Homo sapiens: one gene and its partners. The protein of the gene in region 2 purifies or fractionates together with the protein of the main gene of each other region. This does not show direct contact. Each region holds a gene or a part of one and is shown on either strand. Other genes may lie near its edges. The genes, in order: SKP1, FBXL16 and FBXL18.

Region 1 (3,746 bases), on a different chromosome or scaffold from region 2:
TTGCAAGCAAAGGGAAAGCTTACAAAATGGCTGAATCCTTAAAGTGTAGCTCCTGGCTTCTCCTTGGTAGGAAGCATTAGACATGGTTTCCCTCTAGGGAGCTGGGAGCTTTTGGTGTAGTTCAGGAGAGAAGGCATAAATACTGCTGGGAGGGAGTGGATAACTCTAATAAAAATGTTCCTGGGCTGGGCACGGTGGCTCACGCCTGTAATCCCAACATTTTCAGAGGCTGAGGTGTGCAGATCACGAGGTCAAGAGATCGAGACCATCCTGGCCAACATGGTGAAACCTCATCTCTACTAAAAATACAAAAATTAGCTGGGCGTGGTGGCACATGCCTGTAGTCCCAGCAACTCGGGAGGCTGAGGCAGGAGAACCGCTTGAACCCGGGAGGCGGAAGTTGCAGTGAGCCGACATCACGCCACTGACTGCAGTCCAGCCTGGCGACAGAGCGAGACTCCGTTTCAAAAAAAAAAAGTTTCTGGACAGAACAGATTAATGAGCCAATGGGGGGCTACAGAGCTGAAAGGTGCTACGAAAGGTTTTGTAAAGTGAAACTAATTTGGTTTCAAGAATCAAGTTGGATTTGTTTGGGGGTGGACAGATGCCAAAGTGAGGAAAAAGCAGTGCACAGTCAGGAACTAACAGCAGAAGGTTGGGTGTTGGTACATTTCCCTGAGAATATAGACTAAAGAGAAATTAGGGCAGGATTAGTCACAGTACTTTGCTGACACTCAGTAGTATTTTATCAGCATTTATTCATCAGACCCACATTAGGCAGGGCAATTTTTGAGTGAGCTAAATTCTAATTTTTTTAATTTTAATTTTTATTTATTTATTTTTTGGCTGTTCAACTAAACCAGTCTTTTGAATGTTGGGGGTTTTACAGTTAGAGTCCTGATGACTTTTTCTTGTTTACTGTTGTTAAAAATCACTACCTCCAGTGGTCACAGAGAATGAGTAAGAGAACTGGCTGTGCATATCAAGATGAAGTATGGTGTAAGAAATATTTCAGAGCATGTCCTTTGGCCCAAGATTGAGCCATTTGGACACCTAAGCAGGATTGGCTGAATGTTATCCTTTCTGCTGAGGCATCAGTGGAGATGATCATTAGTGGTGGCCGAAAAGTGTTGTCGAAGGTGCTCTTGCTTGACACACTTCCAATGCGGGACATAGTTTGAGTGATAGATGGCTAATTCATTGATAATGTACTTGTTGCCTTGCAGTCTTGTGTACTGCTGGCTACCTCTGGTCTGTGTGCCAGTATTGAGCAGCATTCTATGGGAGGAATGTAGTTGCTCATAACAGTGTCTGCTTCCACATCTGTAGTTCTTGCGACCTTCTGATATCTGTCAACTTTAAATTTTCTGGAAGTATTTAAGTATATTCAGACCTTCTGATATCTCTTAACTTCAAATTTTCAACCTGCTATATAGCAGCCTCTTATTGCACACTGAGGATCAGCTTATTTCCTTAAAGTGCTCTCACTTTGAATACCTCCCACCTATCTGGTGAAAATTCTTATTTGTCCTTTCTTTCCTGAATGTACCATTTCACAACCTCTAACTGCCTTCTTCAGTTGCTTTGCAGATTTTTCTGTTCCAGGAAGCTTACGGAAAGGGGTGGGAAAATAGAGAAGCTGTACTCTATCCTCAAGTACTCAAGCAGGGTTTCCAGAGTGGCTTTGTAAAAATTTTTATTTATTTATTTATTTATTTTTGGTGAGTGGAACCTGGCTTTTCCTCTTCCCTCCCCAAGCCCCACCCCGCTTCCTGACATTGCACATGCCTGAAAGAACTAGGCTTCAGATAAAAGAATGAGAACACTTGAATGAAAAAGGAAGACTTGGTCCAGAGCCCCTGGTGAATATGAAAGAAGTATTGGCCTGGACTATCTCCCGCATAATTCACAGCTGCTATCTTGTCTTCAGAAGTGAAACATCCCTTACCAATAGTGACCTAACTTGTGAGGACTGCTTGTGATAGTATAGTTCCCACCCCCAGGACATAAGTTTTCCCTTTCCAGTTAACATGCCTAATCCCATGCTATCTTTAAGAGCTTGAAAATCCTTCCTGACCTGAGCTAGGCTTTTATTCTAAGGGACTGTGTATGTGAACATCCCCACCATCTATGTTTCCTGTTTTCAAACTCGGTGCCGTTTTGAGTATTTTCAGATGCTCACTGCCAGTAATGGTTTGTTAGTAGCTCCAAACTATTAGAGAAGAGCTCAGGAGTCAGAATTTGAAAGATGCCCATAGGGTGATTTGAGATTTGGAACAAGGTTATCACAATAAGTTGGGATTGGGGGAGTTGACACAACCAGGGTCTGCTTGGGTGGGCAGCTGTTTCAGAAACCCTTGGTGAACTCTTAAAGCCCTGAAGAGCTTAAAAAATGCTCTGAAGAGATCTGAGAGTCGCAGTTAAGGACTCTCAAAGAACCTCAAAGAAAAGCCAACTTAGCCTTTTTATACAATTAACTAGATTTGGGTCTTAAATTCTACTTTGACATATAGGCCTAAGAGGTAGTTTAACATGGCCTTGTTACCCTTACCCCTTCTGTTCTGTGCTGTTTTCTGAGAAACGGATGCAGGAACTGATTCCCTTTCTTCCTCTCTGGAACAGGATATAAAGAACCCTTCCGCTTCCCTTTACTTGTGGCCTTCCTGGCCAGGCTTATGTATACTGAACAAAGCTAGGGTGCAGTGCTTCTGAGCTAGCTGTTAGGGGTCCACAGCCAGAAGGAATGGGAGACCACAGGAGCCATTCAAAAGATAATTACATGTCAGAAGAGAGTCCATCCATGGGGTTCTGTTAAAGTAGACACCTTCACGTTGGGAGACATAGGCTTTGTCTGCTTGCTGGGCTGAACCCTCACCATATCCACAGAGAACAAAATGGGGAGCAGCTGTACCAGGGGAGGGATGAACGTCTTTCACCCAAGTTGCCAGTCTGCTAGTTGTCTGGAAATGTTCAAGGGAGGCTAAGGTATCTTGTCTTATGATGTCTCAGGAAACAGGGTTGGTTCTCAGCTGGCAGTGAAGGGGGACTGGTGTGGTATTAGCAGTTGAACTTGAGGTTGCAATCTCAAGTCACCCTCTGGCCTCGCAGGAATGCACCAGGGTGATTTGGGAGGATCTGAGTTTCCTTTATGAAGTCAGATTAAAAAAAAAAAAAGCTGATCTGATTTAAACAGAGTTGCCAAAGACTTCCCCGCCAATACACAAAGACTGCATTGTTCAGGTACCCTGTGTACTCTAAGTGAGACACCAAATCAGATGCAGCAACCTGGTCTTGCATAAGCCCTGGTTAGAATGTAGGTTTTTTAAACAACTAGGCCAGTAGCCAGAACAGAATTCTTTAAAATGGGACAGATGTCCAGAGAATGGCTAGTGTCCTCTAGCACTCTCTCAGAAGCAAAAGCAAGTCTGGGGTTACAACTTCCAGTGGCCTACTTTAAATAGACGCTGTTCTGGAAAATGACTTTATACTTTAAACACAAAATCCAAAAAATAGAACTCAGTGGAGTGACAATGACAATGCATGATGGTGGCCCAGTGGCTGTCCCATGTGAAATACTTCTTGCCTGACATGTATCATCTACTTGTTGACTGACCTATTGAGGTGCCTTCATGACACCTTTTACATTCATGATAGGTCTCAGGAAGACAGCAGTGTACTTGGTGGAAACTCATGTAAAAAGTGGGTTGTAGGGAGCTAAACAGTGAGTACACATGGTATATGGATAC
Region 2 (3,746 bases):
GTGAGCCATTGTCTGCTATTGGTGCATTTTGTAATCTTTTGCGACATCCTTGTCCTTGCCTGTTACTGTGTATAGAACAGGGTTTATTTCTGCCTCTCTGGAAGGGTGGGCTAGAGTCTGGATATGTTGGAGGGAATATTATGTGTAGTGACTTCAGTGTTGTCTCTCCCTTTAAGGAATGGGAGGTCCTCTGCCTTCCATGTAGTCACTGCTGTTTCCATTCTACCATGTCGGCATCCAGCCTCTACCCCTTTGTTGCAAGAAAGAATAAATCTGATAAGAGGTACAGGAGAATCCCGAGACCTGGGATGCGCAGGGCAGATATGCCCACCTACACCGCTGTCTGGGGACCTAAAAACAACTCAGACACATGTTTTTACAACTTTTTTAATATATATTTTTATAAACAGGTCACGTGATAAAATAGCACAAGAAACACTTACCAAATATAAGGTTATATCTTCCGCATATACAGGAGAATGAGGTCGTTATGTACAATAAGAAAATGATTTTAGGGGTTGGTTGGTTTTGTTTTCCTCTCTCCCCTTAATTTTTCCTCCTACAGTCGTTGGAAATATCACAGCTTCAGTTGCATTAATACTTTGGGCAAATGGACAGCTGCCCCTCCCCACTAGGGGTTGTGGGGAGGAGGGGCTGGAGAAACTGGCTCCTGACCACTCAGCCCTGGAGCTTCCTGGGGCTGGCACTCCAGGGACAGGAAAATCTTTGGGCTGTTGATCTGTTTCTGATTCAACAGCATCTCTCTCTCTCTTTCTCTCTCTCTCTCACTCTCTTTCTCTCTCTCACTCTCTGGCTCTCTGGAAACTGGTTACTCTCTTCCAACCAGATAGGGAGTGTCCCAAGATTGGGTGTGGGCGCGGTATCTCCTGGGGCTCAAGGTTGGGATGGGAAGGGGTCCCAGCCCCCTCCTCAGCAACAGCTGAGATTTGCCAGCATCCCCCAGGACTTCCAAATGTCTCGGGCCGACAGAGCACGGTCAGAGCCCATTTGGGCAGACAGAAGTTTGGGAAGCTGGGGAGGGGTGAAGTGGGGGTGGGGGGGCAGGCTAGAAAGGAGCCCTCCCTCCTCGGGGTGTCTAGGGTGTGCTGGCCACTGGAAGATTGGAGTCGCTGACCCAGTGCTGACCCTGACCCTTGGCTGGGTCCACTCTGCAGACTCCACCTGAGGAGACCCACCCAGGGTGAAGCTCGGTGCCCAGGCCTGAACTGAGCCCGGCCGGGTGCAAGGGCTGAGGTGTGAGGTCGGCCCAGGCCTCTTCCCAGGCCTGAGGGTGGCTACAGCTCGAGGCTTGCAAGGTGCCTGCGCCACCCCTGGGTTGAGGCCGACCGGAGTCAGCTGGGATCACGTTAATGACTCCAAGCGATCGCCAGCCCTTCCGCCCTCTCCCTGCCCAATTCTCTCAGCCTGGCCAGGGACCAAGGCCGGGTTTTGGGGCGGACAGGGGACTGCCCCACACAGCGGCAAGGAGGAGGAGAGGCCGCGTGGGTCAGGCTGGATGGGTGAGGAGGTGCGGGTGGGGCCTGGGCTCTCGGCGGCGGGCCATGGCTTTGGCGGTGGCCTGTTTCCCCTGACACCCCTCGGAGGGCTCCAGGTATGGTGCGGTGGAAGATGCAGGAAGCCCGTGGGGCTCTTCTGGGCCCGTGTCCTGGGGGACCCAGCCCCCTCAATCCCACTGGGCCCTGCCCGGGATGGGGGGGACAGTGGGAAGACAGAGCGGGTGTGGCGGGGAAGGCGGTAAGGGCACAGTCTGGAGAGCTCAAAGCCCCCCCAAGGACCGAGCCCCGCCCCCCAAGCGGGAGGGCGAGCGAGTGATGGCGGCGGCTGTGGCTGTGGCGTGGCGGAGGGCGGCGTGCAGTGCGGGCACGAGGGGCATGCACAAAGTCCCCGAGTGTGCGTGCGTGCGTGGGGCGGGCCCACCCGCCGCCCCCCTGCCCGGGGCGGGGCTGGGAGGGCGGAGGGACCGAAGGTCGGGGAGGGGCTTTCCCTCGGCTCGCCCCGCCTCCCGCGCTGGGCCGGGGGCGCGGGGGCTCCCCCGAGCGCAAGGCGGGAAGAGGGGGCTCGGCGGCGCCCCGCGCCCCCGCCCAGGTCATGGCCGGGTTCCCGCGACCGGGGCGGGGGCCTCGCGCTACTCAATGACGAGGCAGCGGGGCAGGTGCTGCGAGAAATACTTGAAGAGCTCGGGGGTGGCCCCGGGGCAGTTGGTCAGCTCCAGCTCCTCCAGCTCCTGCAGCTGCACCAGGCCCGACAGCCCGGTGGTGGTGAGCAGCGGGCAGCCTGCGGCGGGGTCAGAGGGCGGCTCAGTGCGCGCGGCCCAGGGCTCGGGCGGGGACGGCCGGGCCGCGCCTCCCTCCTCCTCCGCCTCGGACCCGGGACTGTGTGTCCGCGCCGGGTGTGAGTTTGCACAAGGACCGGGCAGGTTGGGCGGGTGGACTAAGTGGGGGTGGGTGGTCACTGCCAGCGTCAGAGCAGAAACGGGGGTCTCACCTGCCAGAGACAGGAGGCGCAAACTCCCCAGGGCCAGGAGGTGCTTCAGCCCGAAGTCTTGCACCTGTCGGGAGTGGAGGAGCGACTTAACGATTTCCGCTCGCACCGAGGCGGAGGGCACCCTGGGGTCCATGGAGGGCTAGGCGGGTTCAAGCCCGGGGTTCCTCCGTCCCCCCCGGAGCCGGGAGGCGGCTGGGAAGTGCTCGTGGGGGCCGCCGGGACCCCTGCGTTCCGCTTAGGTCGGCTGCTGGATAGGGAGGGGCCCCAGACTCTCCCAGGATCTGAGTGGGGCCGGGAGCTCTCCCCGCGCCCCCACCTCCCCGCCGATCCCCCAATCCCGGGGCGTGAGAGCCGGTACCTGGCAGCACCATCGCAGGTAGAGGCTGCGGAGGGACGACATGGTGGACAGATAGCTGAGGCCAGTGTCCGTGATGCGTACACACCTGTGGTTGCACCAGAGGGGACCCCCACCTTCAAATCACCTGGCCCCGGCCATCCCTCGTCTTCCTGGGAGTGCCCCTGGCGTGAATCCCTTCCTGCCCCACCCGGAGCAGCCGCTGGCCCCTCCTCGCTCCCACCCACCGGGAAGGACGGGGGTCCAGCCAACCCGTGCTGCGGTTCTGCGGTTCCCACTCCCCAGGCTCCGAGGGCTCTGCCCGCCGCGCCACAGCCCCAGCCCCGCCGGAAGCCCCCGCCCCCGGCCCCGTGCAGCCCCGCCCCGCCCCGCCCCGTGCAGCCCCGCCCGGCCCAGCCCCGCCCGGCGCGGCCCGGGGGCGCGCACCTGTCGAGCACGAGCTCCTCTAGGCGGTGCAGGTCGCAGGCCACGTACTCCAGCGCCATGTCGGTGATGCGTGGGCACCACGAGAGGTCAAGGCTGCGCAGCTTGCGCAGGTTCTCGGCCACGAGCTCCACGCCGTCGTCGGTGACCTTGGAGCAGCCCGAGAGGCTGAGCGCGGTGAGGTTGGGCAGGCTGTGCACCACGTTGACCACGCCGTGGTTGGTGATCTCCCAGCAGGAGAGCAGGCGCAGCGTGTGCGTGCTGTGGCCCTGGCGCGCCGTGAAGTAGGCCAGCGCCGTGTCCGTCACGTGGTAGGCCTGCAGGCTCAGCTCCGCCAGGTTGGGCAGCAGCTGCGAGATGGCCGCGATGGCGTCGTCGGCCACGTTGATGCAGTCACTCACGCTCAGCGAGGTGATGCGCGCGCTCAGGCTGGACCACAGCCCGGCCTCGGTGAAGTCGTTGC
Region 3 (3,746 bases), on a different chromosome or scaffold from region 2:
CTACACGACCCTCTGGCTCCAGCCTGCTCCTGCTTCCTGTACATATTTGCCTGGATGGAAGCTCTGAGTTTTGCAAAGCCAGGCTGCTACCATGGCAACCGTGAAGGCCATGGAGGAAGAGCCTATCTGCACACCCCACACGGGTATCGGAGGTTTCCTGGGAACTCTGACTGCGACAGTCCTTTCACCCTCTCCAGACAGGATTCCCATCCTGCTAAGCCCTCGCCAGGCCCTAGACAGGTGTGCTGGAATGTGTCCCACCTTTCTTCCCTGGGAACAAAGAAGTACCCTCCATCCTCCAAAAGAGAAAGCCACACGGAAACCAAAGGACATGGCCCGTAAGGACCCATGAGGCTCATGAGGGTCAGAGGTTAGACACTTACTTCTACCTTCCCTCCTAATATTTTAATAATTAGCAGAACAAGGCCGGGCATGGTGACCCACACCTGTAATCCCAGCAGTTTGGGAGGCCGAGGCGGGGAAATCACAAGGTCAAGAGATCGAGACCAGCCTGGCCAACATGGTGAAACCCCGTCTCTACTAAAAATACAAAAATTACCGGGGCATGGTGGCAGGCGCTTGTAGTCCCAGCTACTCAGGAGGCTGAGGCAGGAGAATCGCTTGAACCCCGGAGGCAGAGATTGCAGGGAGCCAAGATCACACCACTGCACTCCAGCCTGGGCAACAGAGCAAGACACTGTCTCAAAAGAAAATTAGCAAGACAGGCTGGGCACAGTGGCTCACACCTGTAATCCCAGCATTTTGGGAGGCTGAGGAGGGCAGATCACGAGGTCAGTTCTCGAGACCAGCCTGGCCAACATGGTGAAACCCTGTCTCTACTAAAAATACAAAAATTAGGCCAGACGTGGTGGCTCACGCCTGTAATCCCAGCACTTTGGGAGGCCAAGGCAGGCGGATCACGAAGTCAGTTCTCGAGACTAGCCTGGCCAACATAGTGAAACCCCATCTCTACTAAAAATACAAAAACTAGCCAGGCGTGGTGGCATATGCCTATAGTCCCAGCTACTCGGGAGGCCAAGGCAGAAGAATCACTTGAAACCGGGATGTGGAGGTTGCAGTGAGCTGAGATCGCGCCACTGCACTCCAGCCTGGTGACAGAGCAAGACTCCATCTCAAAAAAAAAAAAAGAAAGAAAAAAATACAAAAATTATCTGGGCCTGGTGGCGGGCACCTGTAATCCCAGCTACTCAGGAGGCTGAGCAGAATTACTTGAACCCAGGAGGCAGAGGTTGCGGTAAGCCGAGATCGCACCATTGCATCCAGCCTGGGCAACAGAGCGAGACTTTGTCTAAAAAAAAAAAAAAAAAAATTAGTGGGACACAGTGGCATGTGCCTGTTGTCCCAGCTACTCAAGAGGCTGAGGTGGGAGGATCGCTTCAGCTCAGGAGGTTGAGGCTGCAGTGAGCTAGGATCTTGCCACTGCACTCCAGCCTGGATGACAGAGAGAGACCTTGTCTCAAAAAAAAAAAAAGATAAATAAATAAAAATCAGATTCCTGGAACCCACCCCAGACTTGTGGGGCCCAATCCCAAAAGACAGACTCCCAAATCAGGGACAACCTTTATCAGAACCAGAGACAAACTTGATCAGAATCAGAGACAATCTTTATCAGAACCAGGGACAGTCCTTATCAAGGAATGAACTGTACCCCTCCCAATTCCCAGTTTGCAGATTTATGAAAGAATGCCATCACAGAGCTCACGTGGTAAGAATGAGAACTTAGGGCAAAACACTATTAAAAACTCCAGCACTGGGCCAGACGCTGTAATGCTGTGCTCACGCCTGTAAAACCAGCACATTCAGAGGCTGAGATGGGTGGATCACCTGAGGTCAGGAGTTTGAGACAGGCCTCGGCAACATGATGAAACCCCATCTCCACTAAAAATACAAAACTTAGCCGGGTGTGGTGGCACACGCCTATAGTCCCAGCTACTCAGGAGGCTGAGGCAGAAGAATCGCTTGAACCCGGGAGGTGAAGGTTGCAGTGAGCCGAGATCGCACCACTGCACTCCAGCCTGGGTGACAGAGTGAGACTCTGTCTCAAAAAAAAAAAAAAAAAATCCAGCATCATATAGATTCCACAGTTACACGACCACACTGAATTTTTCTTAAAACCTCATAGAAATTACAATAATTTTTTTTAAAAAGAGAGGGAGAGACAGCAGGCCAGGAATTAAGTTCCAGCTCTCTCCATCCAGCCACAGCAAATTCCACAACATCATTTTTTCCACATGCTGTGCTCCAAATAAAACAGAAATTTTGGACAGGCGCGGTGGCTCACGCCCGTAATCCCCAGCACTTTGGGAGGCCAAAGCGGGTGGATCACGAGGTCAGGAGTTCGAGACCAGCCTGGCCAATATGGTGAAACCCCATGTCTACTAAAAACACAAAAATTAGCCAGGCGTGGTGGTGGGCTACTGTCCACAGCAACTATCCAGCAACTCGGGGGGCTGAGGCAGAAGAATCGCTTGAACCTGGGAGGTGGAGTTTGCAGTGAGCTCAGATTGTGCCACTGCACTCCAGCCTGGGTGACAGAGTGAGATTCCATCTCAAAAAAAAAAAAAAAAAAGAGAAGTTTCATCTCAGGCCAGACCCCTGATGCAATTGTGGGGCCAGCACCCAACCTGGTGGGGCAGGTATCTGAGGGGTGATGCCCAGACAAGACGAGAAACTGGCCCAGGAAGCAGCTCGAATGGGCCCCCACCCCCACTCTCCATCTCCGGCCAGAGGACCCTAGGAGGCAGCTGCTGGGCGGGCGAGTTGAGTCATTTCCCTGGAACTTAGCTTCCGGAGACAACTTTGTTAAGTTAAGGCACCTTGCACCAAAAAAGGTGGCAAGCTCTGGAGAGGAAACAAAAACCAGGGTGCAGGAAGGGCGCGGTAGCTCATGCGTGTAATTCCAGCACTTTGGGAGGCTGAGGCAGGCAGATCACTTGACGTCAGGAGTTCGAGACTAGCCTGGCCAACATGGTGAAACCCCATCTCGACTAAAAATACAAAAATTAGCTGGGCGTGGTGGCAGGCGCCTGTAATGCCATCTACTCAGGAGGCTGAGGCAAGGAGAATTGCTTGAACCGAGGAGGTGGAGGTTGCAGTGAGCCAAGATCGCACCACTGCACTCCAGCCTGGGCGAAAGAGTAAGACTCTGTCTCAAAAAAAAAAAAAAAAAAAGAAAAGAAAAAAAAACCCAAGTTGCAGCCTGGGCAATGTGGCAAAACCTCGTCTCTACAAAAAAATTAAAAAATTAGTTGAGCCAGGCACGGTGGCTCACGCCTGTAATCCCAGCACTTTGGGAGGCCAAAGCAGGCAGATCACGAGGTCAGGAGTTCGAGACCAGCCTGACCAACACGGTGAAACCCCGTTTCCACTAAAAATACAAAAATTAGCCAGGCATGGTGGCACGTGCCTATAGTCAGTCCCAGCTATTCAAGAGGCAGAAGTGGGAGGATCACCTGAACCCGGGAAGTGGTGGCTTCAGTGAGCCATGATCGCGCCACTGCACTCCAGCCTGGGCAACAGAGTGAGATCCTGTCTCCAAAAAAAAAAAAAAAAAAATCTAGGTAACTGGCTGGAGGTCAAAGGCCAAGTAATGCCTCCCACAGGGCCTGGACTCCTAAGCCCAGAACCTCCCTTCCCTCCACCACCAGGAAAGGGCAGCTGAGGCTTCCAGACAGGTCCCAACCAGGCACCTCATTCCTGGGGTCTCCTGAAATTCCAATTCTGGT

What was found.
Region 1: the proteins of FBXL16 (region 2) and SKP1 purify together in Homo sapiens (affinity purification with western blotting; 5 studies listed by BioGRID and IntAct, with this or other methods). This does not show direct contact.
Region 3: the proteins of FBXL16 (region 2) and FBXL18 purify together in Homo sapiens (affinity purification with mass spectrometry; 2 studies listed by BioGRID and IntAct, with this or other methods). This does not show direct contact.

The regions. Positions count from the first base shown.
Region 1 is NC_000005.10:134,149,277-134,153,022, reverse strand, and holds part of SKP1 (S-phase kinase-associated protein 1), read left to right. Parts: 3' UTR 1-3,746. UniProt on the Homo sapiens protein: Essential component of the SCF (SKP1-CUL1-F-box protein) ubiquitin ligase complex, which mediates the ubiquitination of proteins involved in cell cycle progression, signal transduction and transcription.
Region 2 is NC_000016.10:692,129-695,874, forward strand, and holds the end of FBXL16 (F-box/LRR-repeat protein 16), read right to left. Parts: coding exon 3,287-3,746; intron 2,949-3,286; coding exon 2,864-2,948; intron 2,570-2,863; coding exon 2,506-2,569; intron 2,296-2,505; coding exon 2,147-2,295; 3' UTR 372-2,146; downstream 1-371. UniProt on the Homo sapiens protein: Substrate-recognition component of the SCF (SKP1-CUL1-F-box protein)-type E3 ubiquitin ligase complex.
Region 3 is NC_000007.14:5,507,130-5,510,875, forward strand, and holds part of FBXL18 (F-box/LRR-repeat protein 18), read right to left. Parts: intron 1-3,746. UniProt on the Homo sapiens protein: Substrate-recognition component of the SCF (SKP1-CUL1-F-box protein)-type E3 ubiquitin ligase complex.